Homo sapiens: one gene and its partner. The protein of the gene in region 2 purifies or fractionates together with the protein of the main gene of each other region. This does not show direct contact. Each region holds a gene or a part of one and is shown on either strand. Other genes may lie near its edges.

Region 1 (15,960 bases), on a different chromosome or scaffold from region 2:
GAAACACTCAAGGACAGTGAATGCCACAGTCCTCTGCTCAGAGCTGGGCTAGGCCCCAAGGCCCACTGAGTACAATGTCTACCCTATCTCCTTGTTACATCCTTTTTACAATATCCTTGGGTGATGCTTCTTTTCATGGGGCTATTGGAAAGGCTCCAACACCAAAGAGCCAGACCAGCCATTTACGAATAGCCATTCACCATCGGACTGAGGAACCTACTGGGAGAGTGTGAATATGTTGGTGTTTCCTGACTTGTGCTCAGAGCCCAGATCAAAACACTGGCTTGATCTTACTTTGAAACATCGACCTCAGGTGCAGCAGTGTAAATTCTACACCAGGAGGTGGGATTGGACTCAGGAAGTCCACTACAAGAGCAGCAGGCCATGGTAGAAAATGATCTGCCATACCCAGTGGCAAAATCTGGGCCAGTATCCTAAGGACCCACTCAGTAGCCCACAGACCGATTCTTAATACCTTCACAATCCAGGCTTGTTGGTGCTACTTCAAATTCACAAAAGAAAGGGGCTTATAATAAGACAAGCACTGATACACTCCTAACAGGAAATGCACACCCCACCCACCTTCCGAGTCTACCCCTACAGGCAAACCAGGAAGGAGGGAGAAATGCTGGAGCCCTACCACGAGCCCAGGTTAAACGACATCCGATATCAGATTGTTGAGACGTTAAAAATAAAAATATCATTTTCAAGTGCTTGTAGCAGAGGCCTAGCTCCTAAGTTGTAGGTAACAAAGGTACTTCCCTCTGAATACATGGCGATTGCACACACTGGTAAACCTGACGGTCCTGGGGTGGGGGAGACACCCCAGGCTCCACATTGTGCCTTTCTGAACAGGCTTCCAGGCCACCCCAGGCAGGCAGCAAAGGATAGGAAACCAAGCAGGTGGAGACTGGAGCCCTAAGACTCAGTCTTGGGTTACAGGAATTGAATCTTCTTTTAGTCTCTACTGGAAGAATTTTAGAAAACCAATTTTGGCAGCAGCAGTTGAAGGACAGCCCCACTGCCCAGTGCACTGGCAAGAGAAAATGTCCTCCTCTTTGAGTCCCGCTGTGCTACATTAGGTCCTATCCAGGGAGGAGGAAGCAATATGAAATCTTTCCAAAAGGTAAAGGTCATTTGCCAAGATTAGAGGAAGAAATATAAAATCTGTTCTTTGCAGCAGCAAGAGATTCTTTCGGCCTTTAGTTCTTTATGTCATAAAAGCCAGCTGTGCTTGAATGTAAAGGTCCACCTTGCTGGTCAGTCTGCCCAGGGCTGGAGGGAGGCCAGACTCTTGGGATTGGCGAGTGGATGGAGGAGCAGTGGAATGGCAGAGCAGACAAGGTTACCAGACCAAGCCCGCCCACAGCTGGTAGAAGGAAGCCCTGGTTAGGTTCTAGAGGTGCATATGGTCAACGTGCCCCAGAAGCATCACAATGAGGGAAATCATCCAAGAACGAGATTGATGGGCAAGTGAGAATCTGGCCAGACCTGCTGTTTCCTGCTGGTCAAAAAAGGAAGCAATGTTAGTGAGAGTGGGGAATCTGAATGAGCGCCATGGTGGCAGTAGGAGGTAATCACAGGGGCGCCTGGAGCCCCCAGCCACAGCTAGGAGCCCCCACCAAGAAGAGTGGCAGTAATTCAGCAGATAGCCTAACTCTCTACGCCTATGATTTTAAAAGTCCTCTGATGGTGGGTGAGAAGACAAACCCCATGAGCACCTTACTACAGGCCCAGTCAAGAGTGCACTGATTCCACACACACTGGGGCTCAGAGGGAACCCCCAGCTCAATGCGAGGCCTCAGGACCCTGGGATCCGAATGTGGGGTGGATACCGCCCTTCTCCAGTTAGACGATTTTCCATTTAAACATAGATTTGCCGTTAGTGTCTTTTATGCTTTTTTCTTCTTGCAAAATTTGTTCACATAAAAAAATTATTTTTCTTTCCAGTTTCTTTCAAGTGTTTCTTTGTTTAAATTTCCTTCAGTTTCTTTCAAGTATCTTTTTTTCCCTTCTGTTCTCCTGGACAGATCAAAAGGCCTCACTGAAATCCCAAAATTAGACATGGGGAAAACTTCTCTTCTCCCTGCTTACCCAGCAATGAGGACAGAATCCTTGGTGCCCCACTGTGGAAGAAGGAATGTGCCTGTGTGCAGCCTTCCACTGCTGTGGCCACACCATCTCAGGCAGGGAGAACGCTTGGGTCTGTCCTTTCGTCCCCAGCTACATCCCAGTTTCCAGCAGGCTTGGACACTGCAGCCTCCCCATGGCAAATTGGCCAGACTCGGCTGGAGAGCAAGCAGGCGATGGGGAGCATCAGATGGAAGGCCTTCTGTGAACAGCTGGCCCACAGAGAGGCGGTGGGTAGGAGCTGGGCCTGGATGGAGCCTGTGTTCATGTGGACCAGAAAACAGTTCCATGTCACCAGCTGCAGGATCCAGAGGAGCTTGTGTTCCATGCTGTGCATCTTGATGACCCAAGCCTGAAGGTCACAAGGGTGGCACAGTGGGGGAGGGCTTAAGCACCTGGAAAAACTGTACCTCCGGCGAGCTCACGTTTCGCCATCTCTTCTGGTCCACTGCCTCTCCTGAGGGACTGTTCCTGGAAGGAAGCGCCTATGTCTGTACCAGATCCCTGCCCCACCACATCCCATCCTCTGCCTTAGATGGTGAGGAGAGGGATGCAGCCCACACCGACCCCTCCCTCATGGCACGCCATGGGGGCCATGAATGTCCAGCAGTCTGTCTCTGGGTCATACATCTCCACTGAGCTTAGGTTTGACTGTCCGTCGTAGCCCCCAACAGCGTAGAGGCGCCCACAGCTGGCCACCAGGGAGACCCGGCTCCTGCGCGTGTGCATGGGGACAATCAGGCACCACTGGTCTGCCACAGAGCTGTACATCTCGGCAATGCTGAGGAAGCCAGAGCCATCGTAGCCCCCGCAGACAAACATCTTGCTCCCCAGGGAGGCGGCTCCGTGCCGGCAGCGCTTGTTGAGCATGCCAGCTGCAGGGTGCCAGGTGGCTGTGTGGTGGTTGTAGTGTTCCACCTGCAGTGGGGAGAGAGGCACAGGTACAGGACAGTCAGAGGCAAAGCTCAGTCCATGGAGTGACCGTGCAGGGCACAGCAGCCCCCCATGATGTCAAACTCCTGTGGGAGGTATGGGGACAAGGAGCTCTCCCAGTATTCCCTCTGCTGCAGGCCTGCTCTTTGGTGTATGGGGACAGGGAGAGGTCACCTCACCTAACCCTTTCTGTTTGCATCTAAGGAAACAAAAAGGATGTGCCCAAGGATGCAATGCTAGGTAGTGACAGAACCTGTATGAGAGCTGGGTCTCCTGTAATCTCCAGGGCTCTCCACTGCAGCACTGACTGACTATGGAATGACTAGTAAATGGCTGTTGAGCCTTTTTTACAGAATAAATACAATTTCAAACAAATTATCCAAAAGAATACAACTGTTTGCAAATTTACACTTGGTCTATAACTGAACTTACTTTGGGCAGGAATCTCACAAGTTCTATGTAGTGTTCAACAGACAGTAGAACAGGGTGGTGGCTGCAGATGTGACTACCCTTTGCCCTTCTTTTGTGTACACTGGCTCATTCTCTGGAAGTTCAGAATTTCAGAAGGTGCAGTGGATAGCCTGAAACCTCACTAGATGATACTTTATTCAGCTGTGGCAAGGCTGAAGTTTTTTCAAATAATGATCTTCTAAAATAAATCTCAAAGACAGAAGTAGGTACCCTTATCCCAGGGGGAGCCCAGACTCACACTGCTGAAGATCTGCAAACCATCATGGCCGCCTGACACATATATCCTGCCCTCAAAGACTGTAACCCCAGCAGCACTGCGATTCGAGCTCATCGAGGTCACCACTGTCCATCTTCAGGAAAGAGTCAAAATAGGAGGGGAAGCATGAGATTCAGGGTTCTTGTTCCCTCAAGACAGCCTAGCAGGGTTTAGGTGAACTGTGCTGGCCATCTCTCCATCTCTTATCACCTCTCCCACCACCTCTCTGACAGTTCTCCCTGGCTGCCGCCTCTCACCCAAGCTGCAAACCCACAGCCCATCTTCTCTGCTCATCTCCATGGCTGCTCAAAATCATTGTCTCATACAAGACCTCTTTCTCCTACAGTTCTGCTCCTCCCTGCACTCCCTGCCTTGTTAAGCAGACCACCAGCCCTCTAGCTGCTGTACTTATAAAGCTCAGTGCTATTCTGGCTGCTTCTCCCTCACCATCAACATTCCTGTGGTCCCCCAAGTCCTGGCTGGTTTGCTTCCTAGTCAGTGCTTGCTCCCATCCCCACTACCAGTGCCCTACCCCTGACCTCTCATCTGGACCACTGCAACAGCCTCTTTACAGGCAGCCTGGCTTTCCTACCAGTCCCATCCGACCCCACCCAGCCAGAGGGATTGCTCCTCCTGTACCTGCACCATGTCCGTCCAGTGGCTCCTCACTGTCTCCTCTAAGAGAATCCAGGTTCCTTCATGTGGTTTTTAATTTTTTTTTATTTTTGAGACAGGGTCTCACTCTGTCACCCAGGCTGGAATGCAGTGGTGCTATCATAGCTCAATGCAGTTCTGACCTCCCAGAATCAAGCAATCTTCCTGCCTCAGCCTTCTCAGTAGCTGGGACTAGAGGCTTATGCCACCATGCCTGGCTAATGTTTTTTTCTCTCTCTCCTTTTTTTTTTTTTTTTTTTTTAAAAGAGACAGGGTCTCTCTTATGTTGCCTAGGCTGGTCTCAAACTCCTAGGCTCAAGTTACCTTCCTGCCTTGGCCTCCCAAAGTGTTAGGATTACAGGCGTGAGCCACTGTGCCCAGCCCTTCATGTGGTTCTTCACCTCTTGGTCCTCAACCACCCTTCAGCTTCACCCCACACCACATGCCACCCACCCTGCTCCGTCTCCCATCCACACGCTGTGCTCTAGCCCATGAGAGGATCATTGCTGTTCTCGATTACAGTGAACACTTTCTTATTGCAGCCTCACTCCTTGTTGTCTCCCTATGATGAGCAAACACCTCCCATTGGCTATCCATGACAGGTCTCACCTTGGAAGACATCCCTGCTACCCTGTCCCTTCCTGCAACCCTGGGGAAGATGAAGGTTCTCTCTGCTCTGTGCCCAAGAGCTTCTGACACAGGCCTCCAGGGTAGGATGATCATGATGCAACCCATGGCCCAACCACATTGGATGCTTTAAAGGATCTCAGACACCCAGCTTGCTGTCTGATCCACAGTAGATTGGTCAAGTGAACAGAATACTGGCTTAAAGGCATCCTAATAAGTCCATTCAACTAATTTGTTTATATTTTATTATATAAGATGAGAGGATTCAAATACTGAAATGAAAAACTCGGGCTAACCTTGTCAATGTTTTTCAAAGAGTGTTCCACAAATGAGTCCCACAAGATGGTGACTGTTGTGTATATAAAACCCGAGGTTAAACAGAGTTATTTACTGCAGGGTTTCTTAGAGTCTTTAAAATGTTAATATATCTTATGGAAAGACAAGGACTCTGGCAGTTCAGACATCAACATTTCCCAAGCCTATCTGACCACAGAACTTAAAAACATTTTTTTTTTTCCAAATCATATCCTACCCACTTTGGAACATGCTGTTCATCTACTTCTTATTCCCTCTTGCCTGTATTTCCATTAAAATGGGCTGATTTAGCTAAGAGGTACAGACCATTAAATAAGTATTTCCAAGCAACTATGTAGACTATTTGTTTTAAAATTTTATTTACTCATTCTTTCACTTAACCAAGGGTTATTAAATATCTAGTATATACAAAGTACTATACGGGCAAAAAGGTAAGACATTCTCTACCCTTGAGAAGCTTAAATTAAAAAAACTACAGTTCTGATTTTTATACTCTCTGTTTATAAGCTCCAGTTGCCCCAAGGGAGCTGGAGTCCTTACTTGTCCGTCTCAGGTGAGTAGGTCTCCACGGAGCTGAGGGAAGAGTTGCCATCGTAGCCCCCACAGACGTAGATCTGCCCATCCAGCACGACTGTCCCCATGGCACTGAAACAGACAGAGCTGTCATCCCAGATGAGCCGCAGCCTTCCTGGAGCAGCCTCTCTTGCCCACTGAGAAACAAACCTATCAATTGCCTCTTTCTGCAACGTAAATCTAAGGTATGTGACTAAGTAAAGGCATAAAACTGAGGTGACAGAAGCTGCCCCATCATTCCTCTTGTGCCCCACCCTTCTACCGCAGGCTGCCTCCCCTCCCTGCTCTTCTCTGTCCTTAATCTTTCTAAAATGCTTACCTTCCACCTCACCATGTGAAGGTCGAATTTACCTTGAAGGCCCAACTCAACTTCCACTCTCCTCTTCCTCCCCTTTGTAAGAATTACTCTTTCCCACCCCCACGCTCCCTGAGTGGCTTATTAATCAGCAGTTGTTACAATCATTCATTCATCCATCAGATCTGTAACAGCTGGGGTTTAGAGTGGTAAGCAAGCCAAAGTTCCAGCCCACAAAGCACTTATGTTCTGACATTATAGGCTACCAGGAATCTATCTGCCACTTCTGTGTGTAATTTTTAATCAGAGCCTTGCTCTGTCACTCAGGCTAGAGTGCAGTGGTACCATCATAGCTCACTGTGCCTTGAACTCCTGTGCTCAATTGATCTTCCTGCACTTCAGCCTCCCAAGTAGCTGGGATTACAGGTGTGCACCACCACACCCAGCTAATTTTTTTTTTTTTGAGACAGGGTCTTGCTATGTTGCCCAGGCTGGTCTCAAACTTCTGTCCTCTTGTCTCAGCCTCCCAAAGTGCTGGGATTGTTAAGAGTGAGCCACCACACCCAGCCAATCTATCTGCCACCTCTTAATAAGTGAGGAGCTCCTGGAAGACAGGAAAGGGCCTTCACCTGTGTGACCCTCACAGTGATAAGTATGATGTCCTGTATGTAACAGGCACTGAATGTATGTTTGTTGTGTTACCTCTGCTTTTTCCCACTCAATTCACAGATGTTGTTTTCATCATGTGCATGGCCTCTAATTTATCATAGTGGCTGATGCCACAGCTCCTGTTTGCTGTGCATTTACTACATGTGTTAGGTACTCTACATTTGTTATTTTCTTTTTTTTTTTTTTTTTGAGATGAGGTCTTGCTCTATCATCAGGCTGGAGTGCAGTAGCACAATGATGGTTCACAGCAGTCTTGACCTCCTGGGTTCAAGGGATTCTCCCACCTCAGACTCCCCAGTAGCTGGGACTACAGGCACATGGCACTATGCCTGGCTAATTTTTTTTTTGTATAGACGGGGGTCTCACTATGTTGCCCAGGCTGGTCTTAAACTCCTGGGCTCCAGCAATCCTCCCGCCTTAGCCTCCCAAAGTGCTGGCATTACAGGTGTGAGCCACTGTGCATGGCCCACTTGCTATTTTCAGCCCTTAGCACACCCTGCAAGGAAGGAAAGAGCACCATAATCACTGTACAGACAGGCAGCCATAGCTTGGGGAGGCTGAGGTCTCTCCTCAAGACTGCCCAGAGAGAGGCCTGCCTCAGATTTAAATGAGACAAGCCCAACTCCCCAACTCCTTACATGCCAAGCTCTCCTAATATCAAAGACCCAGGGGTCTGGTGGTGTAATCATGTAATCTTCCCTCCTACACAACGCCTTATAAGGAATTCAGCACAAATGCCAAGCTGCCCAATTCACTATTTTCAAATGTGATGCTGGTGAAGATTAAAAATGAATCTAGGTTTCTAACAAACAGGAAAATAAAACATACCAGGCTTAATGCTACCTTTTCTTTTTTTTGAGACGGAGTCTCACTCTGTCAACCAGGCTGGAATGCAGTGGCACGATCTTAGCTCATTGCAACCCCCGCCTCCCCGGTTTAAGCAATTCTCCCTGCCTTAGCCTCCCAAGTAGCTGGGATAACAGGCGCCCGCCACCATGCCTGGCTAATTTTTGTATTTTTAGTAAAGACAGGGTTTCACCATGTTGGCCAGGCTGGTCTCAAACTCGTGACCTTAGGTGATCCGCCCTCCTTGGCCTCGCAAAGTGCTGGGATTATAGGCGTGAGCCACCATACCTGGCTTGCTGCTACCTTTTAAATGTACATAGTAATCAAACTGATCCACAGAATGTCCCTTTCAGGGACATGATAACTGACCCCCTGAACCAGCCAGAAAGAGGAGAGGGACTTGCCTTAGGCAAGTATTGTGGGAAGATCACAAATTTACTAGACATGATCACTATCCTTCTGGATACGGACACAAAACAAACATAAAAATTACATAACAAAACAGGTGTTGAACAATATGAAAATGAATTAAGAGGTGCCCCAAAACTGCATGAGATTAACTATCAACTAGGTGGTAAAGGCGAGTGTGAAGAGAAGGAGAAAATGCTGATCAGCATGGACTGGAATAGTCCAGTGTAAGAAAGGTCTATGGGATGGCGTAGAACACTGGGGGAGATAGGAAGGAAAGATGGCAGGATGTCACTAACTGGCAGAACAGACAGCTGTGTGGGATGTCAGAAGAGAAGTGACTAGGAACGTTTTAAGGTAGCCTGTAATTTAAAAGGGATGTAATGGAACCGGGCCCACACTAATAACAGGATATTAACCACAGTGAAGGAAAGGAATACCCAGAGAACTTTCCTCCAAGACAGCCCTCTAAACCCAGTAACATCAAAGCAAGGAAGTGGTCCAGAGCAGACACACAAGGAAGGACAGCTGACTGCAGTCAAAGCAAAAAAGCTACTCATGGTTGGGGACACGGAGCAATGAGTCACTCAAACATAGGAAGCTGCAAAGTATCCAAGGAGCAAAAGTGGGGATGGTGGGAGGAAAGGACTCTCAATGCGTTCTTGGGAGGGGCAGATCTTACGTATTTTTTTCTTCCCAAAGGAACCTACTCCGATGCTTTGTGAACTGGTCTCACCAGTACAAAGGCAGATCCCTCCCAGCTCACATCCACATGCAAACGCTGCTGGATGTGGAACAACATTAGGCATATATCAAGGAAGCTCAATGTGTAAAAGCAATCAGTGCAGAGCTGTCCTGGGTAACGGCCAGGGGGCTCTGGGCAGCTTTCCTCTCCCCTCCTTGGGCTGCGCCAGCTTTTCAGCTGCCCACACATGTGATGACTCCATCACGTGTCTGACATAATGAAACATGCCACCTGTCACCTCAGCAGTAAGAAGGGCTAAACAAAGGCACTGGGATGTCTTCTAATCCCACTTCTTATTCAGACAATATAAGCAGAGAAGTGGAGAGAGCAGGTAGCTAGAATGTACTGAGTGACATATCAACTTGGCCCACCTTGCAAATACCTATGTGCTCCTGTCTGGGAGAATGTGTGTGACCTAAATAAAAGAACATTGCTTTGGTTCGTATTCTCCCCAGGTAGTGGAAGTGCATGTGTGAGGGGAGTCCTGGGGAAGGAAGGTACACAGAAAAACACCTTGGATTTCCTTTTATCACTAATAAAGGTAAATCCTCCTTATTCTTCAAGTTTCAACTTTAATCCCACCTCTTCCCTGAAATCTTCCAGAAGTTCCAGTCCAGTTTCTCTCCCTCTTCGAATCTTCCATAATACACATTTCCAGTCCTTATCTGGCACTTAAAATAACAACACAACTTCCACATGTCCATGCCTGGTCTCCCCAAGTTCCCCAAAGGACAAGGTGGATATTTTACTTTTAAGCAGATGGGGGCTCGCTCCCAGGAGGTACTGGCAGTGGCTGGCCTGGCTGCAGGAAACTCCCAGGCCAAAGCTTGTATTTTACTCTACTGTGTGCCCCTGCTCGTCTAGCATGGCGCTCCCCAGGTGCTCAGTGTGTATGTTCGGGCTGCACGTGGCTTCCAGAATACCTTCTCTTGCTATTCATGCTCCCCACTCTGGTCCATGTGTCTGTCTCCGGGTTGTAGGCCTCCACAGTGCTCAGCCGTAGCTGGCCGTCATATCCTCCGATGGCATAGAGAAGCCCGTTCACCACAGCCACGCCAACGCGGCTGCGGGCTGTTGTCATGGGACGGCATCTCTCCCAGCAATTGGCAATGGGGTCGAACACTTCCACCACATTCAGGGAATCACCTGCATAAAAATTTGCTACTCAAATTAAAACAAATGAGACCACTTGTTTAGAGCACAGCTATTGGGCATTGATTATATGGAACATTCGACTCAATTCTATTAGCTCTTCCCACAGAATTACTCAAGGCACAAGGGCCCACTAAGAAATTTCAGCCATGATCACCTCAAACCTAATTCTTTAAGGAAAATCAGAATCAGACAGGAGGTATTTATTTTTTAGAGAGGGTAGTTTTCAGTTACAATCAGGTACTCCACCTGCTTAAAGCCAAAGGTATAGGTGAATCGATACAATATTTCCTCCAGGCAGGAGGCATGCCAGAGGGACGGGCATGCGCTCCAGTGCTTTCATTTGCTAGGGGGTGACCCAAGGCAAGGGGCTTTGTGTCCCCACCCTCTGCTTCACATGTGAAATGGAGATAATCTTTATGGATTAAATGATATAACAGGTAAAGCACCTAGCATGGTTCTAGAATAAACTTTGCGCTCAATAAATAGTCATAGTAGCAAGGAATGATCATTCCAGCCCTACCTTTTTCATCAGGTTTTTGTGATGATCAAACAAAATAACCCCCTCTTCCTGTGGTATGCTGCTATGGGGCACTTAGCATTTCATTTGCACGCCGCTCCAGCGTGCACTGAGTTGAGGATTTACCTGTTCCAGGCCCTCTGATTAACAAGCAGCAGCTAGTACCCAACTCTCATTAACCTTCAATTAAAAACAAAACTGGGCCAGGTGCGGTGGCTCACACCTGTAATCCCAGCACTTTGGGAGGCCAAGGTGGGCAGATCACTTGAGGTCAGGAACTCAAAACCAGCCTGGCCAACATGGTGAAACCCCATCTCTACTAAAAATAGAAAAATTAGCTGGGCGTGGTAGCATGAGCTTGTAGTCTCAGCTACTCAGGAGGCTAAGGCGGGAGAATTGCTTGAACCCGGGAGGCAGAGGTTGCAGTGAGCTGAGATTGCGCCACTGCACTCCAGCCTGAGTGACAAGAGTGACACTCCATCTCAAAAAAATTAAAAACAATAAAAAATAAAAACAAAACTGCCTGGGAGTGCCCACCAACTGCCCCCAAGTTGGGAGGCCATGCAGCTTTCTGAAAACCTTACTCTTAGATTCAAAAACTGCCAATAACCCACGGACTGTAAAGCATGTGTGTGTTTCACAGGGGGTGGGGCTGAAGAGTAAAAAGTATTATTGACAGTGGTAGACCCTGTGTATTTGGATAATCTTTCTCTTGGGGACTTTCTCAGTCTAACCCCAGAGATCCATATGACAAAATGTGAATAGCCTGGTATGGAACTGGGTCTCTGACTGTATCCTATCCGGGGCTGAAGGATGCTATACCATAGCCAATGTGATATTAGGGCAAAAGTGCTGGCTCAGGAATCAGAACACCCAAGTTCTAGTCCTTGCTCTGCCAAAAACAATTGTATGAACATAGTGAAAGTTCTGTGGGGCTCAATTTCCTCACTTGTCAGGTAAGAAGGCTAGGCCTCAAAGATTTCTAGAAGGTCTCTTTAGCACTGATATTCTGATTCAATGGCATGAATATGTGACATGCTCTAACTGTAGAGCAATTGTATAAAATCAAGAGGGGCAAGGGTGGTGACAGTACAAAACAGAGAAACCAGAAGGGCCAGGCTAATTTGTCTGGTGCTTCCTCATCCATGGAGTCCAAGAGGAGGGTCTATAAAGGGGAGCCGCAAGGTACCTGCTGAGTTGAGGCCCCCTACAGCGTAGATAAGTCCAGCGATGGATGTGCAGCAGCGTGGCCGGGTTCTGAAAGCTGGCAGGTGGGGCCGGCGCTCTGGCATGAGGTGGTAGTCCTTTGCTTCGTCTACCAGGTCCCTAGAATAAGGTGGAAGATGCTAGAACAGGAGGTATCCCCCTGACTTAGTCCTCGTTTGCATCTCTGAGCCTGGCTCTCCACTGCCAACTGCAGGGGAAACCTGGGAGGAGAAGCCTTCTGGAAGGTCTGGTCTCAAAGAAACCAGGTGAGTTCTGGGAAAATCATACATGGCTACTGAGATATACTCAAAATTAAAGGGGCAAGACAAGCAAAGACCACCTCAGCTAGTGTAGATTAGGCATGAGAAAAACAAGGTAGTGGCCAAAATGGCTGGACCTGGGAGTTTCGACAAGCAGCATGCACCCTGTTGCCACTCAGACCTAGCCCTTCCTTTCCATCCCTACGACTGCACCGTGGCTTGCAACCTGCAATTAATCACCACTCATCTCCACGGTGGCAGCTCCTGACACATTTCCCTGCCTCAGGCCTGCCCCTCCATTCCACTTCCACACTAGAGTTCAAGCTAAGAACCTTCAATAGCCACCCACTGCCGACAGAATAAAGTCCAAACTCCTCAACAGCACCCTTGAGACCGCTGGTCACTGGGCCCTAGCTACCTCCAGACACTACTCCACCCCATCCTGACACACACCTTCACACCATCTGCCATGGACAGGCACTTACTTCCTCCTGAACCAGCTGATCCCAACCAGGAGTTGGAAAATGAAAGAAAGCTGAATGTGTGTAAAGTTTTTATCAGCAAAGGAGAAAAAAATATTTCAGGGTTGTGAATTTGATAAGCAATCTGGAGGAGAATGAACATTTTTCTCTGCTGTTCTACTTTTACAGCAATCATCCTATAGGGCTGCCATCTTCTGAACTGTTTGGGTAACTCTGCTGTACCATGTTGTCATTGATTTGCTCTGGGTAAAAGTTTCATGTGTTGGTAAACATGTCTGCCCCTTGCCCATCATCGTAGATGTAAAGCCTACACCTGGCAGAGGCCCTCCATGCCCACAGCACTGACTAATATTTACTGAAGAGGGCAATGAGCCCCAGGAAGTCCCATTTGCGCCACTGAGTGAGCTGCTGGTGTGGACAGGGTCAGAGCAGGCAGTAAAGATGGTTGCACATTCATAAATAGCTCAGTGGGGAAAGATGCTGGAAAATCCTCAGATAACTCAGCAGGGGAAAGCCCTTTCTGCTTTGATGCTCCCACATGGCACATCTCTCTGCCCAAGGCATAAGATTCGGGCTCTTCACACTTCCTGTTCCAGCTTCTAGACAGAGGGCAGACCAATCTGTGTGCCATGAATTAGACTGATCACTCTAAATGCTTTCTTTCCAGAACTGGAACAGGTGGCCAACTCCTCTTCCCTGCTTAGACCTTTGGCAGTGTCCTGTGCAGGTCCACCCTCACTCACCTGCATTTGTGGCAGCAACGCACCAGGTCATCCTGCTGTACTCTGTCTGAAAGGAACTGGGGCCGACAGAGGGGCAGGCGGATATTGGACAGCAGCTCAGGCAGGTAGGGACCCCTCTGCTCCCGGTCGTATCTGACCCAGGCCAATGCAGCTTCAAAGACCTGTCATGAGAGTGGATGTTCTGGCAGCAAATCCTCCCACCCAGAGGCCACACCCCAGGCCTCCAATCTCAATGCCTCCACTTCCTATACTGAAGCAGTCCCTTGGGCCCATCAATCTTTTCTCCTACTTGTCTCTGAAATCCCTGATTTCTCTCTACTTCCTAGGCTACTAGAACAGCTTCCTGAATTTCATTATGATTATGATTTCCTAGTGAAAAATCATCAATGGCATCTTATTACTTTCTGTGAAAACAAAATGCCTGTTTCCCTTCCCGCTGCTCCTGTACCCCTGCTCCCTCTAAACTCCCTCCATCACCCTCTCTGTACTCCGGCAAGGCTGGGCTGGTTCTCCTGTTTACACTGTCCCCCCTCATCTAAAATGCCCTCATCTCCTCCTCTTCATCTAAACCCACTCCCCTATTTTTAAGGCCTGGCTCTAGATCCATGTTCTCCAAGGAGCCTTTCTTAATGGCTCCAACCACAAGGACCTCTCCCTCTAAAGCCCTACAGCCCTTATGAAATGTATCACTCAAAGAAATGTGAGCTGCCCCCCCGCCCCCCGTCATATTAATTAGTTTAAGAGCTAGGGACAGGACACCTAGTTTTTGGAATGAGGCTTTTTCCTCGAAACCACAGTGTCTATGCTGCCAAGCCCAGGATCCACTTTTCTCCCAGGCTCCTATCAAGCCCGCTTCACCTCTCTAGCATCCCCCTTTTCTAGAGGAAAGAGGAAAATAAATCATACCTTTTAATCCCTCCTCAAATTTCTTTTTTCTTTTCTTTCTTTCTTTCTTTTTTTTTGGAGATAGGGTCTTGCCCCATCGCCCAGGCTGGAGTGCAGTGGCGCAATCTCAGCTCACCTCAACCTCTGCCTCCCAGCTCAAGCAATCCTCCCACCTCAGCCCAAGTAGCTGGGATTACAGGCCAGGAGTTTAAGCTGGACCAGGCCTGGCTAACTTCTGTGCTTTTAGTAGAGATGGGGTTTTGCCATGTTGCCCAGGCTGGTCTCAAACTCCTGAGCTCAACAAATCTGCCCACCTTGGCCTCCCAAAGTGCTGGGATTACAGGCGTGAGCCACTGCTCCCGGCCTTCCTTAAGTTTCTAACCTTCGTCCCTCATCCTCACTCTCAGGTGAGAAAATAGAAAATCAGAAGAGAATTTCAGTAAGAATCTACCTGTCCCCCGTCCCTGGGCGTGTGCCCCAGCTCTCCCTCCTGCTACTGTGGATATGGATGGCTTGTGCTCCTATCAAAGATGCACACCCTTATGCCCTAGACTGTCCTCACTTATTCCAGAACATCATTCCAACAACTGCTCTCCCATTTCTCCAATATTATCAATTCTTCCCTCTCTTCTGGAAAACTCCCAACAGCAGTCAAATATGCTGTAATTTCTCTCACTTTAAAAAAAAAAAAAAAAGGTCGGGCCTGGCGCAGTGGCTCACGCCTGTAATCCCAGCACTTTGGGAGGCCGAGGTGGGCAGATCATCTGAGGTCAGGAGTTCGAGAACAGCCTGGCCAACATAGTGAAACCCCGTCTCTACTAAAAATACAAAAGTTAGCCAGGCATGATGGCGCACACCTGTAATCCCAGCTACTTGGGAAGCTGAGGCAGGAGAAATGCTTGAACCTGGGAGGCTGAGGCTGCAGTGAGCTGAGATTGTGCCATCGCACTCCAGCCTGGGTGACAGAGTGAGACTCTGTCTCACAAAAAAAAAAAAAAAAAAAAAAAGGCCTGGCATGATGGCTCATGCTTATAATCCCAGCACTTTGGGAGGCCAAGGTGAGAGGATCATGTGAGGCCAGAGTTCAAGACCAGCCTGGCCAACGTGGTGAAACCCCATCTCTACTAAAAATATAAAAATTAGCCAGGCATGGTAGCGGGCACCTGTAATCCCAGCTACTTGGGAGGCTGAAGCAGGAGAATTGCTTGAACCCGGGAGGCAGAGGTGCAGTGAGCTGAGATTGTTGCCACTGCACTCCAGCCTGCCTGGGCGTTGGAGCAAGATTCTTTCTCAAAAACAAACAAACAACAACCCCTCTTGATTTCACAGACCCCTCCCACAGCTGCCCCAATGTTCTGTTCTTCCTTAGAACAAGATTCTTTCAAAAAGTTATCTATACTAGGCCGGGCACAGTGGCTCACGCCTGTAAACCCAGCACTTTGGGAGGCCAAGATGGGCGGGTCACTTGAGGTCAGGAATTCGAGACCAGCCTCGCCAACATGGTGAAACCCCGTCTCTACTGAAAGTATAAAAATTAGCCTGGCATGGTGGTGCATGCCTGTAATCCCAGCTACTCAAGGAGGTTGATGCGGGAGAATTGCTTGAACCTGGGAGATGGAGGTTGCAGTGAGCCAAGATCGCACCACTGCACTCCAGCTTGGGTGACAGAATGAGACTCTGACTCAAAAAAACAACAAAAAAATTATCTATGCTTGCTGTTTCTGGTTCACAGGAGGATTATTTCTAATAGTAAATATTGGAAATAACCCAAACATGCAAGAATAAGGTGA
Region 2 (16,621 bases):
TTGAGTTCCCCAAGACCACCCTCATGTTCAGTAATTTGCTAAGAAGATTCAAAAGATTCAATATACAGTTGTACTCATCGTTATGATTTATTATAGCAAAAAGATACTAAGCACAATCAGCAAAGGAGAAAGGCACAAAAAGTCCAGGGGAAATTAGGAGCAAGCGTCCGGGTGCTCCCTTCCAGTTGAGTTGCAATGAACACACTTAATTCTCCCAGCAGTGAGCTGTGACCACACATGTAAAATGATGCCAACCAGGGATGCTCATCAGAGACTCAGTGCCAAAGGTTATTAGGGAGACTGGTCATGTAGGTAACCCTGGCTGGCACATATGCCAATTCCAGAATCCCAGAAGAAAAGCAGATATTCAACATAAACCATATTTATTATACAAACAACTTAGGCACAATGACAGACTCATCACTTAGGGTGGTGGGACCATCCCCAAGATTCCCCTCAGATGTCAGCCAACCACCGCAAGGCCTGCTTTGTTAACTCTTTTCTCCACACCAATGACTAACAGATCCTTTTGAGCATGAACCTTATCTACCTATCCCCTGCTAATCCCCAGGTCCTAAGAAAGTGCCAGTCACTCCCCTCCAAGTTGTTTTTTTCTTTTTTTTTTTTTTTTGAGATGGAGTCTCGCTCTGTTGCCCAGGCTATAGTGCAATGGCACGATCTTGGCTCACTGTAAGCTCCGCATTCCGGTTTCAAGTGATTCTCCTGTCTCAGCCTCCCCAGTAGCTGGGATTACAGGAGTGCACCACCACACCCAACTAATTTTTGTATTTTTAATAGAGATGGGGTTTCACTATGTTGGGCAGGCTGGTCTCAAACGCCTGACCTCAGGTGATCCACCCACCTCGGCCTCCCAACATGCTGGGATTACAGGTGTACACCACTGCTCCAGGCCTCCTAAAATTTTTTTAATGAAAAAATTTCTGGCTCCACTACTTTAAGTTCTGTGTACCTGGGTAATAATATTACCTACCTCAAAGGTTGTTTTGAAGATTATATGAGTTAGTATATGTAAAGTGTGAAGTACATCATCTCTGGTAAAAAAAAAAAAAAAAAAAAAAAAAACACTATATAATTTGTGAGTATATATGTAATGTTATTATTTGCTTTTTTTTTTTTTTTAACATTCTCCAGGTCACAATGGAGCTACCCTATCTCTAAACTTCTAATGAATCTACCAATGTAAACATAGATTAGAAGTTAACTGGTAATTGTTTCATGTCTACTGAGATCTCTAACTAGCTTGTAGACAACTATATCCAAAACTTTTTGTTTTTGTTTTTTTGAGATGGAGTCCCACTCTGTCGCCCAGGCTGGATGGAGTGCAGTGGCGCCATCTCGGCTCACTGCAACCTCCGCCTCCAGGGTTCAAGCAATTCTCCTGCCTCAGTCTCCCGAGTAGCTGGGACTACAGGCATGTGCCACTGCACCTGGCTAATTTTAGTATTTTTAGTGGAGACAGGGTTTTGCCATGTTGGCCAGGGGTGGCCTCAAACTCCTGGCCTCAGATGATCCACCTGCCTCAGCCTCCCAAAGTGCTGAAATTACAGGCATGAACCACTGCACCCGGCATCCAAAACTTTTTTAACACACACAGTAGTATCTAACGTAGTACTTAATCTTTTTAGTGCCCAGAAAATATTGATTTATCAACAAAATTAAATGTCTGTTAAATCAACTCTTTACAGTGGTAAGAATGTAAGGCGGTCAACTCTTCTGATAATAACTACAAAATGGCCTCCAAGTTTCTTTGATCTTCTTTCATTGAGAAAATTGAGAAACTGAACTAAAATGGCTTAATTCTAATCCGTGAAAAGACGATTAGTAGAAGCGTTTGAAATAAGCAAAAGGGGCTGGGTGTGGTGGCTCACACCTGTAATCACAGCACTTTGGGAGACTGAGGGAGGCAGATCACTCGAACCCAGGAGTTCAAGACTAGCCTGGGCAACATGACGAAACGTGGTCTCTACAAAAAATACAAAAATTAGGTAGGCATGGTCGCACACATCTGTAGCCCCAGCTACTTGAGAGGCTGAGGTGGGAGGATTGCTTGAACCAAGGAGGGAGAGGTTGCAGAGAGCCTACATCGCACTCCAGCCCAGCGACAGAGTGAGACCCTGTACCAAAAAGAAAAAAAAAGAAAAAAAAAATGCCAAAGCACTTTTTTGAGTTTATAAAGTATATCGTTTTAAACATTCTACTTTGCCTTAAAGAGAGCATGGATTCAAGTCTGTTATAGGTTAATAAAGGTGGAGAAAGATATATATATATATCTTGTACAGCAACAATTTAGGAGATGTAAGCCTCCTTAATTAATGAAGTCAAGTACTGAAAGTTTTATCTTAAACAAACAAACAAACAAACAAAAAAGACAAAGAAGAACTGTGAAGAACAAAAGGAGGGGAGACAACATGCAGCCCAAGTTTTAAACTGATGAGTCAGAGACCAATGATTTCCATCTCAGCTCTGATACCAGGGCTCTGCCCAATCAGGAAAAACCTCGAGATCAGCAGAATTACAAGAACAACAGACCCATCAGACTGAAGTTTCACATTTTGAGGAAACTTTTAGATTGGCAAATTTCTTTAGGTGAATTATAATCAGACTTTCACTTATATAAATTTGTCCTATAAGCATCAACATCATAATAAACACCAGTTCCCCAAGGTGAACTTTACTTTTTAGTAAATATTACTACACTTTAAAAGTAACAACTCTAAAATATCAAAGACTTAATGAAAAACATGAACTCTTGGATTGGCTCTTGCAATCAAATGGGCTCTACACGTTTCTACTTTTTGAAAAAGTTAGAAAGCTAAAAGACTCCCTTGAAGGCAAGGTATTGGACATAATTAGGATCTGCCAATTATCTGCACATGGAAAGCACAAGTGGGACAGAGGCCACATTCCTACAGAAAGGGCAACTAACAAAAAACGTCTACAGACACTAAGTGGTTGCAGCTCCATAGGCCTTATGCCCCCATCAGCATACCAGTCTCCTGGGTGAGAAGCAGTTATGACAGTGGGGCAGCGGTAGCAGTGGTGGTATGTGTGGCCTTGAAAGCAGTTCAGCAGTGGCTCCCTGACTTTCCCTCCTCCAGCCCTTCCAATGACTTGGTAAGTACCTGATTCCTGAAAATAGCTACAGTGGATCTCTTTCCTGCTCTATACCCTGACTTATATATTGACATTGTGTGAATTTAGGTCCTCTTGCCCTCTTCTTGGACCACTGTTCAACATCTCCTAACTCAGGATTTGCCTGCAATCCTCACTATCCCAGTTCTTCCTCTGACCTGAGACTACCAAAACTGATCATGCTTAAAGAAAGCTTATCTAGTAAGGGCCGTATGGAAACTTCTTCTGTTCTTTCATACTGGTACATGTGTGTGTGCAGCTGTGTCCTTTAATTCCTTCTCTATCTGATGAAATCCCACTCCACCTTCAGAACCTAGCTCAAATGAAGACTCCTTCTGTGACTGGTCCCAACAGGGTCACTCCACATGCCACTCCCTTTCACAGGTGCACTCCCTTTCACACACCCTGCTGCCTGCCAGGGGCTCTGTGCTCATTCATTCACACATTCATTCATTCAAAAAATATTTGCTAAGTTACATTTGCCTACCACATGTCCTGAAAACTGGGGATACTACCCTAACCAAGATAAACAAGGTCTCCTCTCTTACAGCTATAATCCAGCAGGGATACAGTGTACCCCATAATTACCTAAATAATGTTTAATTACAATTGTGATAAGTGCAATAAAAGATTCAGGGTGTTGTCTTTTATGTATAAACGGAAGCCTAACCTAATCTCAGAGGATCAAGGAGAATTATTTCCCTTGAAAAGACATTTAAGCAGGAATTGAAAGATGAGCAAAAGCTGAGCAGGCAAAAACTTGTTAGAAAGCTTCCCAGGCAGAAGAACAGCACGTGCAAAGGTCTTGAAACAGCATTCTAGGAACTGTAAAGACCACCAATGGGCAAAAGTCAAGGTGCAAGGGGAACAACAGCCCAAAATAAGTATAGAGGTAGTTATTTCTTAAAACCATTATTACAAGCACTTAGCACATCGTTTTAGAATCATTTATTTGCAAAAACACAACCCACACTAAACAAACTCCTTTAGGTCTTACAAATTTTTTTAGCTCTCTTACCTAATACAATATCTAACAGTGTGTCTTCAAGTCAAGATCTGCGGAACAAAGAAACGAGTGTTTGATCTCAGCAATGAGCTTACCCTCTCAATATCAGACAGGCTAAACAAAACAATCTCTAGAGTTAAAAAACCTTATGTTTCTGACTACCCAAAATTGAATGGGCAAGAGACTCACTTTCATACCAATTTAAACATGCTCAAAATCAAACCTAGCAAAAGATGGAAACAGACCAAATGTTCATCAATAGACGGATAAATTGTGGTCTATCCATACAATGGAATATTATTCAGCCATAAAAGGAGTGAGGTACCGACACATGCTACAAAATGAATGAACTTTGAAAACATATGAAGTCAAAGTCAGAAACAAAAGTTCATATGTTGTATTATATTAAATATCCAGAACAGCCAAACCTACAGAGATAGAACATGCAATAGTGTCTGCCAAGGGCTGGGGAGAGGGGATAGTGGGAAGAAACCGCTCAATGTGAATTTTATCTATATGTTTTGTTTTTGTTTTTGTTTTTCCCTGAGACGGAGTCTTGTTCTGTCACCCAGGCTGGAGTACAGTGGCGCGATCTCGGCTCACTGCAACCTCCGCCTCTCCGCCTCCCAGGTTCAAGCAATTCTCTTGCCTCCGCCTCCCACGTAGGGATTACAGGTGCCTGCCACCATGCCTGGCTAATGGTTTTTGTATTTTTAGTGGAGACGGGGTTTCACTATGTTGGCCAGGCTGGTCTTGAATGCACTTTTAAAATCTCAGAAATATACATTAACAAGCATGGGACATGTCAATGTGGTACCTGCCAAGCCCAGCGATGTTTTCTAGGAGCCCTACTCAGCCAAGTTCAGGCTACTCCTGATGTCCAACACAAGATGCCCTATTCAGAGCATGTGAAAGAATAGAGAAGTGAAAAAAAAAAACAAAAATCAAAGCTAGAATTACCTGTAGATAACACTTTAAATACTGAAAACTAAACTTGAAGCTGGCAAGGCATTCCCAGTCCTCACTGCTCCCTAAAGTGCCACCAACTAATAACCAACAAGAGCTGCTTTAAACTCCCACTGAGTCATGAATGCAGCTAGGAGAGAGGAGGAGTAGTTCCATCTGCCTGTTCTTAAATTCTCCAGTTGTTCAACAGATTTGGTAAGAGCAGGATCAAGAGCAGGAAACTGGCGCCTATGCCATCCTTTTCTCCTTCGTTGCTTCCTAAATACTGTCAATCCAGGAAACACAGCTGGTGATTCAGTAAGAAAATGTCAAAACCCAATTGACATACCTCTACCAACTATGATAAGGCAAGATAATACAGGCACCTCAAATCCTAAGCTTTAGTTTTGGTACATATTCTCAAAGATCAGTGGAAGAAGCTTCTTTGAAAGAAAGAAAATTGAGTTAACTAGGAAATAACTTTGAAATACAGTACATGAAAAGTTTGATGCAATTTACTAGACAGTGAAGAAAACATCAATACATACACAGAATGAAACTTCTTAGTAACTGAGCTGTAGAGTAAGACCTTTAACATATCTTTTAAAAGTACTATATTTATTATGTCATCCTAGCATATAGATCCAAAATCATGTAACAAGCCAAGAATTCTACTAAAAAAGCCTCCATAATGTACTTCAACCTTACCAAATACTCAAAAACTGTGAAAATATATTTACATCAATTGCTCTATCATGTCGAATTTTTCAATTATTACAACCATGAAATCAAGTCTAATTAAATCAATAAGTGGCCTTACCTGTGATTTTTTGCCTGAAAGATCAAGATAAAACAATGAAATTATTTACAAGATCATTTTAATATTCTTCTAGATTTAGTAGCAACAAGAAAAAAATAATCCTTGTAAATTATACTGTGGAGTTCATGCCCTTCAAGCTGCACCCTTGTACTCTTGATACCATTCTCTTCTCTCCCACTTCCTTCACTTCTCAAAACAAGTAAACCAACAAAAGGCCAGACAAAACCAAAATACAAAAGACATTCATTCAATATATATCTACTGATTTCCGTGGCAATACAAACACTGAGCAAAACGAATACTTCCTATTCTTCAGGTCCAAAGAAGTAAAACTTTTGATCCTAATTTAAGAAGTACATGATTCTCTTCTCCCCACCTCAAAAGAGTAAATAAAAAAAAAAAAAGTTAACATGGTTAATAATGGCTTTTAAAAATCTGTATTATTTTAGAAAGCATTAGTGAAAATCTGATTTTATAAAGTACTTTTTTGGAGACAGAAATTTGAACAAAAATTAAATTATTTTTAATAAAGTCTGTAGATGAAGGAAGGTTAATTCTGAAACTGTTACTATTCGACTTTTAATGAACAGATTTAATATTTACCAGCATCTCTACTTAACCATGTTATTACTCAAAATGACAAAATGTGTACTATTTAGCTTCAGCTTCTTTCTTCTTCTTGGCCTTTTAAAGGACCATTTTTCAGTGTTTTGCTAGTGCAGTCAATGAGCAAGCAACTGAGCCTAAACACAGTGCAGAACTCCCAAATAACCACACACAATCAAGTTACTAGGAAAACAAGTATTACAAGAACCAGGCACGGACTTTGTAAAAACTCATCACCTGAAAAGGTTACATAGGATAAATATAATCTTGACTCAATCAAGTTACTATATTGAAAAGTGCTTCATAAAAATAATCTAGTTACAGTATTCCCGCATGATTCTTCTAGTAATTCAGTACCTGTTACGACAGTGAAGTAACCTGCTGATGCTGTGTGGCTCAGTCTAGTCAAATATTATCAGCCTACTGAAATGTGACTCATTTATATAGTATTGAGATAGAACAGTAAAGCTTCAGGAAAAGTCTAAGTCAAATAACACAGAAATCTTAAAGGACATTCCCCAAAGAGACTGTCTCCTGCTTTAGAGAACTACCCTATTTCTCACCCAATAACGAAATAAACCAATTAAAAATATACACGATCTTTTCTTAACTACACAAGACATTTCTTTAAAAAAAAAAGAAATATTTCCCTTGAGATTACTTACAAGACATTAAACATAAATCAGATCTCCAAACACAAAACATAGCAGCTAAAAATAGTATATCTGTTTCAAAGGCTGAGGCAGAAGCCCTCCAACCGAAAAAACTAAAATTAGGTTTTTTCCATCTCTAGATCTTTAAAATGAACCTTCAGCATTTATGAGGTACACAAATCAGTGTCCACATATTCTCCCAAACTAGCTGGTCAGAGAAAACCTAATTACTAAAATCTTCAGAAATACAAACCCACCGTCCTCCAAGAGACTCATGTAATGAAATTCCTCTTCATTCTGGCTAATAACCAGACTAAAAAACAATACTACTACTAATAAAGACCTTTCTCCAATTAATTTATTCCGTAAAACTCAAACCCACCGAAAAAGACCACCATACTCTTTTTCAGGAAGCAGAGATAAAAGCCTTGTACAAAAGCTGTCAGGTGGGCAGGCAGGTAGGGCTCCATCTAGGAGACCAAGAATCCGAGCCCGGAGTGGGAGGACGTGGTCACACCGGAGGGTAGAGGAGGGGATCCAGACCTAAGCGCGGCCCCACCCACAGAGATAGCTATGAGCAGAGCTAGGAGGGCAACTCTCTAACCCTAAGCTCTGCCCAGACCCGTGCCCGGTTCCGCGCTCCCAGCCTCGCTCCTACCCCCAGCCCTGTGGAGGGTCCGAGCATCGCTACCCTGGCACCTGCTCAAACCCGTGTCTGGGAGGAGGGGAGGCTGGGGCCACTGACAGGGCCTGCGGGCCTGACCTCGCCGCCGCCTCTGGCGGACTTGAGGGTCGACAGGAGCCCCGCGCCCGCCCGCTCAGCCACCCGCCCTCCAGTCAGGGCAGGAGCCGGCCAGCGAAGCCGAGGCGTCCGCTCGGGCCCCGAGCGCCGCAGCGGCGGGAAGGTCACCGGTCGCAAGAGGCCCCGACCGTGGGCAGCGACGACGTCCAAGCTACCTTTGGCCTCGCAGTCGGCGCAGTACTTGTTGTCCTCCTCCCTCAGAAGCTTGGATAGGATGAGCTGGTGCTGCTCGTTCAGCTTCTGAGCCTTCTCCCGACAGGAGCGCGTCGCCATCTCGGCAGCGGGGCGGGGAGCCTGGGGCAGCTACGGCGGCGGCGGACGCTGGCTGGAGCCGGGCAGAGTGAACGCACCTGGCGCCGCCGGGACCGCGGGCGGACTCAGCCCAGGAAGCGGCAGCGGCAGCTGGAACGGGAGGAGGGGCGGCGGCGGCGGTGGCGGTGGTAGCGCCGACGTGTCCCGCCTCCTTGACCGGCCTGCCGGCACGCACCACCCTAGCCGGCGAGGGGAGGGGGAGGGGGACTGGGTCGCGCCGAGGCTTCCGGGTGGCGCGGAGGAAGGAACCCGGGCGCCGAGCGCGCTGCGCATGCGCCGAACCTACGGGGCCCGGGCTGCCGAGTCTTTTTGCAAAAAGGCCTTCTGCCCAAGGTGATTCCCGAAAGGTAGCTGGCACTGCCTCATACGAGCTTTCCCCCCTTTTGAGATGTGATGGTCCGCAAGGGCCTCTAGTAAAACCCAGTAATGGAAGACCTTTTACAAGAAGCCTACTTTGACTTGCCCATTTGCCTTTGCTCTTGCTGGCACAACATTGGAAATGCAGAAATAACTAGCGACTGGGTGGGTTCATTTACTCATTCGAGGTTTATTCGCCTGCAGTTTAGAAGCTGGAGACACGGATGGAAGAAAAGAGGAAAAACGGTCTCTTACATTTTAAGGGCGAGAAATAATCTAGTAGTGACATGTATTAGGGGATAACATTTCATTGAGTGATTACTCTGTTAAACGAACTGTTAGCTCATTTAACCCTTTCCCCAACCTTATGATATTGTTATCCTCATTACACAGGGGAGGAAAGTGAGGCATAGAGGAGTTAAGTAACCTGACCAGATTACAGAACTACTAGTGGAGGAGTTGAGATTTAAATCCAAAGCAGTCTGGCTCCAGAGTCTGAAAGACCTGGCAGTAAGCCCTTCCATAAGGGGGAAAGTGTGACCAGGAACCCAAGTACTAGGCGGTGATACTTTAACAAGAAGCTGTGTAAATAGTGATCCTTAATGCAAGAGAAAGAGAACTAAAGAAAACACTTTTCATTGGAACCCAGACCCTAATCCAGGCTCATGAAGTTTGAACTCCGGGTGACGCAGTTTCGATGATTTGGCATGTTGTATATTATGAGGAAGTTCTAATATGGGGCTTATGCAAGCCAAATAAACACAGTCCTTGCCTGCGATGAAGCAGATGCTAAGAAAGGCAATGAGCAAGAGTCGGTCTTACACTTCTTAGTAAGGCCAATTTCTAGCCCCTGTCCCTGCATAAAAGTGACCCTCATTGCTACCTAGCCCTGTTCTTGGCACAGGGGCTCAAAAATGTTTCTGGAATTAAATTGAATGGATATGGCAATGAAGATGCTCAGTAATTAAACAAATTAGAGCTTATACTACATAGCTCTGACAAATAACTACTAGGGAGATATTGGTGAGTTCCAATGAACAGAAAAAAACATTATGTGGGAGGTAGAACTTACGAGCCTTGTCCTGAAGATACGCTGGATTTAGATGGGGACTGGGGAGGGAGATATTAAGAAAGAGCAGCTTGCACAAAAGCATGAAGACCTGAAGTACCTTGGAAAACAGACTGGAACAAAAGGTACTACTTTTGAGATAAGGCTGCATAAGTAAACTATGATAGGGTTATGGAAGACTTGGGAAGCCAGACAAAGTAGTCTGGCCTTGATGCAAATTGACAGTAGAAAACCTGTAGATTTTTGCCAGGCACAGTGGCTCACGCCTGTAATCCCAGCACTTTGGGAGGCCGAGGCAGGCGGATCACCTGAGGTGGGGAGTTCGAGACCATCCTGACCAACATGGAGAAACCCTGTCTCTACTGATAATACAAAATTAGCCGGGTGTAGTGGCGCATGCCTGTTTAATCCCAGCTACTCAGGAGACTGAGGCAGGAGAATCGCTTGAACCCGGGAGGCAGAGGTTGCAGTGAGCGGAGATCAGGCCATTGCACTCCAGCCTGGGCAACAAGAGCAAAACTCCTTCCCCACCCACCCCCCCCCCAAAAAAAGAAAAAGAAAACCTGTAGATTCTTCAAGTAGGATAATAGCATAATAAAAAGGATCTTTTGGGAAAGTTAGTCCTGCAGTAACCAGTAAACAAACACCATTTTTTGAGTACCTCTCCTCCCTACAAAAATTCTGTTCAGCACTGTGAGGACTCAGAAAAACAGAATACAGGTTTACCACCAAAAAACAACCTTCAGGATGGATTGAAGGGTCACAGCAATGTCCAGTACAAATACTTGCGTGCCACACGTATAACTTTAAATAATGCAGTAGCCACATTTAAAAACAGAAAAAGAAACATAAAATACATTTTACTAATACATTTGATTTAACTCAATGTATCCAAAATATTTTTGAGATGTAATATAAAACATGGCATATTTTCTTTCCATTCTTGTTTTCATATTCTCTTCAAAATGCTGTATAACACAGCTCATTTCATTTTGGAGTGGCTGAATTTATTTTTTAATAAAGAAATTATCAAAAAATTGAGCCTAGGAGTTCGAGACCCTGCTGGTCCATGGGGTCTCACTATGTGGGCCAGCATGGTCTTGAACTCCTAGCCTCAAGCTATCCTCCCACCTTGGCCTCCCAAAGTGCTGGGATTACAGGTGTGAGGCACTGCGCCCAGCCTGGAGTAGATGAATTTCAAATGTTCAGCAGCCACATGTGACTAGTGGATACATTATTGAATAGTGTGGTTCTAGATGGTCAGCTTAGAGGCTATTAAAATATAAATTTGAGTTGATTGTATTTTAAGACTATAGTAGGAAGAAAGAGACTGGTCCCCAAAACATCCTGGGAAGAAAACAACATTGCATTTATTCACCAGTATTTATCAAACAACTTCTATCTAGTACACTAATAATCAGAAGCTTACAGTCTACTATGAGCTACAAATATGTAAATAGAAAAGGACTACACTGTAAAGTTTATAGCAATTATAAAGTGTTCTCGGAGCAAAAGGAACAGAACATCCAGTAGCCTGGGAAAATCTGGGAAAGTTTCACGGAGGAGGTGATGCTTAAACTTGGCTTTTAACAGATGGGGGAATTTTTCAAGTGAATGGGGGTGGAGCGGAGAGAAAGGAATTGCTTTAAAAAACACGTATGGACTTCTGAAAGTTCAGGGTTATATGCTAGACATAGTGAGGATATGAGGCCCAAGAAACCTAGAATGTGTTTGGAGAACATGAAGGTAGGAAAGGAAACAAGATGGAGAGGTAGATTGCCACCAGAGGGTTAAGAGCTTTGTAGCCAAGCAACAGAGTTTGAACCTCATGGGTTTATAGAACCAATAGAAGCTTTTACACGGAAAAATGGCTTGATAAGCTTTCTTCTCAGTAACTCTCCATACAGTGGCAGTATGGAGAACATGGTGGGGAAAAACTTATCAAGGGAACAGATTACAGGCCTGTCTCAATAATAGTCCAAAGAAGATATGATGAAGGCCTATTTTAAGCAAGTAGCGTAGGGTTTGGGAGAGACAGAATCAAATGATGGTTTAAAATTAGAAGCAGCAAGATTTGGCAGCTGACTGTATGTGGAGGGCAAGAGAAAGAAGGTGAGAATAACATCAAGCTTTCTAAGTTGGGAGAAAGGTAAATGGTAATGCCGTTAACCCAGATCAAGAATAGAAGAGGTAGGCCTCTAGGTCCAGCAGTCACAGGGCTGAGCCAGCAGCACTAATCCTCCCAGTTCTCCATGTGCTCAGCTTCCTGCTCTGCAACCATGACACAACAGGCGATCTCCTTTGCCAAGGACCATCTGGCTGGTGGCATTGCTGCTGCTGTCGCCAAGATAGTTGTGGCCCTGATTGAGCAGGTGAAGCTGCTGTAGCAGATGCAAGGCGCTAGGAAGCAGGTGACAGCTGACAGCAGTGCACAGGAATTGTGGACTACTTTCTTAAGCAAGCCCTCAACATCACATTCAAGGATAAGCAGACACAGCTATTCCTGGGAGTATGGATGAACACACACAGTTCTAGAGCTGTTTTGCCCACAATCTGGCCTCCAACAAGGCGGCCAGAGCCACCTGTCTCTGTTTTGTGTACTTGCTGGGTTTTGCCAGAACCCATCTGGTGGTCAATGTTGGGAAATCGTACACAGAGCTGGGATTCAGGTTCAAAGACCTAGGAGACTGTCTGGTGAAGATAAGTAAGTCTGATGGGATCTGGGGCCTGTACCAGGGCTTCAGCATCTCTGTGCAGGGCATCATCCTTTTCTGGGCAGCCTGAAGGCCTAAGGCATGCTCCCTGACTCCAAGACCACCACATCATGGTGAGCCAGATGATTGCCCAGACTGTGGTGGTGCGGCCAACATGACCTTCTACCCATTGGGCCCTGTGCAGACCCAAAGGAGCCAACATACTGCACATGGGAACCCTCAATTGCTGGAGGAAGATTTTTAAGGAGGAAAAGGGAAAGCCTTCTTCAAGAGTGCATGGTCTAATGTTCTCAGAGATATGGGAGGAGCTTTTAGGCCTGTCCTGTATGTGGAATTGAAGAAGAGTAAGTGTGTTTCCTCACTAGAAATGAAAACCAAGAGAATCATGTAGCATACTTAACTGTTATGGACCACTGACCTTTGAGAAATTTCATTTTCTTGGTCCTGGCCATAGTACCTCTGTAGAGGACTAGAGAAGGCTTTAGAAAAGGGGTTCACCATGATCATATTCAACCATTGGCACCCTGAATCCACGCATTGATTACTGGCGATAATTATGACATCACCATGGGTCAACAAACAAGGCAGCTCCTTCAAACAGACCTGTAGTCCAGGCACTTGTAGAACCCAAGTTGTGTTTAAATATTTATTTATTTATTTTGTATTTATTTATTTTAGTTTTTATTTTTTTGAGATGGAGTTTCACTCTTGTTGCCCAGGCTGGAGTGCAACGGCACAATCTTGGTTTACTGCAACCTCTGCCTCCCAGGTTCGAGCGATTCTCCTGCTTCAGCCTCCCTAGTAGCTGGGATTACAGGCACCTGCCTCCATACCCAGCTAATTTTTTGTATTTTTAGTAGAGATGGGGTTTCACTATGTCGGCCAGGTTGGTCTCGAACTCCTGACCTCAGGTGATCCACCCGCCTCAGCTTCCCAAAGTGCTGGGATTACAGATGTGAGCCACCATGCCTGGCAAATATTTATTTTTTAAAAAGTCATGTCTCCCATTTGTATTTGAGCACTATCTCCTCTTTTGCATAGCCAAATATTTGCAATCATGTTGTATGTTGGGCATTCTTCTGCAAAACAGTAAAAAGAGGACACTGAAAAAACAAGAAAGAACAAAAGAGATAGTCCAGATTTGGGGTCGGGGAGAAGCAGCATTTGCTTGGGGACATGTTAAGTTTAAGATGTGCCTAGGACATCCAGCTTCATGTGTCTAATGAGATATTGTATATTGACTTCTAGAACTCTGGAGAGGAGTTACTGCTGGTAAAAGTCATTTGGGAATTATTTGCATTTAAAGGGTCATAGAAGCTGTAAAGATGGATGACATTCCCCCGGAGAAAGCACATAGACAAAGGAGAGGAGAGACCTAAAGACAAAATTCTGGGGATTGCCTACTAAATGAAGAGTGGACAGAGAAAGGTGAACCATTGAAAACAGTGGAGAACCAGAAGCCAGGGAAGGAACAGTTTTGAAGAAGAAAGGGTGAACACCAACCAATGCCAACTATTCCAGAAAAGTCAATTATTTCCATTTTAGACAGTACATACAGCATGTGGTCATGGGTCTGCACAGTTCATTGTTTTCTTTCATAGCTCAAGAACAAGAGAAGATAAATCATCTGATGAGACTTCCAAAGCCTGTGATTGTCTGGAGGGTTCCATGAAATATTGAGGGAGGGATGGGGACGGTTAGAAGGGAAAAAAGAAAAAAGGTACAAGGATAGGAAGCAGTGCTAGAGTTAACTATTGAGTGTAAAGTAAGGAAAGTGTCCAAAGTGTGTGTGAGAAGTGAAGTAGGAGCAAGCAATGATTATAGGTTTCTTTGAGGCCAGAGGTGATGTGGTATGGTTAGGAAAAGGATGCGGACAGCTAAATGAAGAGAAGTGCCTAGTGACACCTCTCAGAGGGGTGTAGTAACTTGTCCTGATGAACTCCTGGAAGTCAAGGTGTCTATGGATGCTTGCTGGATGGGGAGTGAAGTTGAAGGGTCTGTTTTTGCAGATTCTTAGAGAGATGAGGTCACTTTTGACTCTAATTTTTTGTTTCTGGTCAGACGAAAAAGATGAGAAACAGGTTTAGGGAGTTTGACTACAATGGAACCAGGATTCAACAGAGGATATAAGTAAAGAGGGAAAGTGATGGAGTAGGAAAATGAAGGAAAAAATTTAGGTCAAGTGAAATGGACAAGAATGAGCCAAATATGCGGGTGTAGGTGGAACAACTGGTAAGAGCAGTAGGTATAGACAACTGGGAGGATGAGCATAATAGTAATAAGAACCAGTGTTTTTTAATCTCCCACTGTGGAATAATGTAATCAATCTTATTATACTATTTTTCACATCAGGAAACATCAGCCAGGATGAGGTATTTCATGTTGAGATAACAAATAACTTCAAAATCGTAATGGCTTCAGACAATAGAATTTTCTTCTTGGTCATGCTACATGAGCATTGGGCTCATAGGGATTCTACCCTATGTTGTCGTCACTCTGGTACCAGGCTGATAAAGTCTCTATCACTTTTCAGGGAAAAGGCAGGAAGATGACTTTTAAAGGTCTCTCCCCAGGAATAATACATATCCACTTCCACTTTTAAGCCATTGGCCAAAGCAAATGCATGAACCCTCCTAATGTCAAGGGAACCAGAAGTGCAATCCTACCATTTACCTAGAAGGAGAAACCGAAATATCACTGAACAGCACAGAAACTGTGGCCCAGAGATGTTAAGTACTTGGTTGAAAGTTATCGATATCTTGGTTATCAATCAAGTATCTTGGTTGAAAGCCTAGATATTAAGTAGCAAAACTGGCTTTCGAGGTTATGTCTTGTTGGCACTGAGGCCCTGGTTTTTTATAAGCTATGCTGTCCCTTGAGATGGAAAACAGAGTAGAACAATTTAGACCCATCAATAACAAGAGTTAAAGAGAGATCAAGTGTATTGAGTCAAGAGGAACACATATGTATTGAGGAAAGAGGAACATTTATTATGGAGATAGGTAAACAAACATCATATACACACCCACAAAAAGAGGAAACCCAGGAAAGACCCTAGATTTTTTGTTTGTTTTGCCTTTAAAAGTTACATCAGGGGGCCGGGCGCAGTGACTCACACCTGTAATCCCAGCACTTTGGGAGGCCGAGGTGGGTGGATTATGAGGTCAAGAGATTGAGACAATCCTGGCCAACATGGTGAAACCCCGTCTCGACTAAAAATACAGAAATTAGCCAGGCATGGTGGTGCATACCTGTAGTCTCAGCTACTCAGGAGGCTGAGGGAGGAGAATGGCGTGAACCCGGGAGGTGGAGATTGCAGTGAGCCGAGATCACACCACTGCACTTCAGCCTGGCAACAGAGTGAGACTCCGTCTCAAAAAAAAAAAAAAAAAAAAGTTAACATCAGGGAACCTTAGTGTGTTTGTGATTCCTAAAAACTTAGCCCAACTGGTGTACTCTTTTAATTTATGCTCAGATACCAAGGAACTCTCCTCAGTGTGGGGAGAGGGAGGTCTCTGTTGAAAATTTGCTACTTCCACACAATTCTTCCCCACCTTCCTTTGGAATTATTTCCAAATGTAATTTTTTTTATTTTATTATTATTATACTTTAAGTTTTAGGGTACATGTGCACAATGTGCAGGTTACTTACATATGTATACATGTGCCATGCTGGTGTGTTGCACCCATTAACTCGCCATTTCCAAATGTAATTACACACAACCTCCCACTGCCAGGAAAATATAATTTCCAAAATCCCAATTTCTCAGCTTTTTACCCTCCAGTACAGAGACACTGAAATTTTTTGAGTGCTCATATGGGCAACTAGTATCCCCAGTCGCAAAAAAAAAGCTTGATACAAGGAGTCAGAAGAACATATTCAACCCCTGCAGTCCTGCGAGGGAGAGAGGAAAACCAACTTACACATATATTTGAAGGCAGATGCCTGATGGAACCATTAGAGGGGTATCTAGGCCTCAAGTTTGGCTATGGGAACTCTAACCATTCTTTGAAGCATTTTGTTGAAGCAGAATTAAACAACTCAGAAAATTTTCCTGAACTGCCCTTCTTATTATCCTCCACAGTCCTGACCCCACCAGCCTTTTTTTTTTTTTTTTTTTTTGAGACAGGGTTTCACTCTTGTCGCCCAGGATGGAGTGCAATGACATGATCTCAGCTCACTGC

Evidence for each region.
Region 1: the proteins of SMAP1 (region 2) and KLHL18 purify together in Homo sapiens (affinity purification with mass spectrometry; 2 studies listed by BioGRID and IntAct, with this or other methods). This does not show direct contact.

Annotation. Positions count from the first base shown.
Region 1 is NC_000003.12:47,330,643-47,346,602, reverse strand, and holds part of KLHL18 (kelch-like protein 18), read right to left. Parts: intron 13,447-15,960; coding exon 13,286-13,446; intron 11,921-13,285; coding exon 11,784-11,920; intron 10,084-11,783; coding exon of another isoform or gene 10,069-10,083; coding exon 9,846-10,068; intron 6,047-9,845; coding exon of another isoform or gene 6,032-6,046; coding exon 5,927-6,031; intron 3,885-5,926; coding exon 3,773-3,884; intron 3,049-3,772; coding exon 2,662-3,048; 3' UTR 1-2,661. UniProt on the Homo sapiens protein: Substrate-specific adapter of a BCR (BTB-CUL3-RBX1) E3 ubiquitin-protein ligase complex required for mitotic progression and cytokinesis.
Region 2 is NC_000006.12:70,659,661-70,676,281, reverse strand, and holds the start of SMAP1 (stromal membrane-associated protein 1), read right to left. Parts: upstream 8,400-16,621; 5' UTR 8,259-8,399; coding exon 8,141-8,258; intron 7,753-8,140; exon of another isoform or gene 7,654-7,752; coding exon of another isoform or gene 7,566-7,653; intron 1-7,565. UniProt on the Homo sapiens protein: GTPase activating protein that acts on ARF6. Plays a role in clathrin-dependent endocytosis. May play a role in erythropoiesis.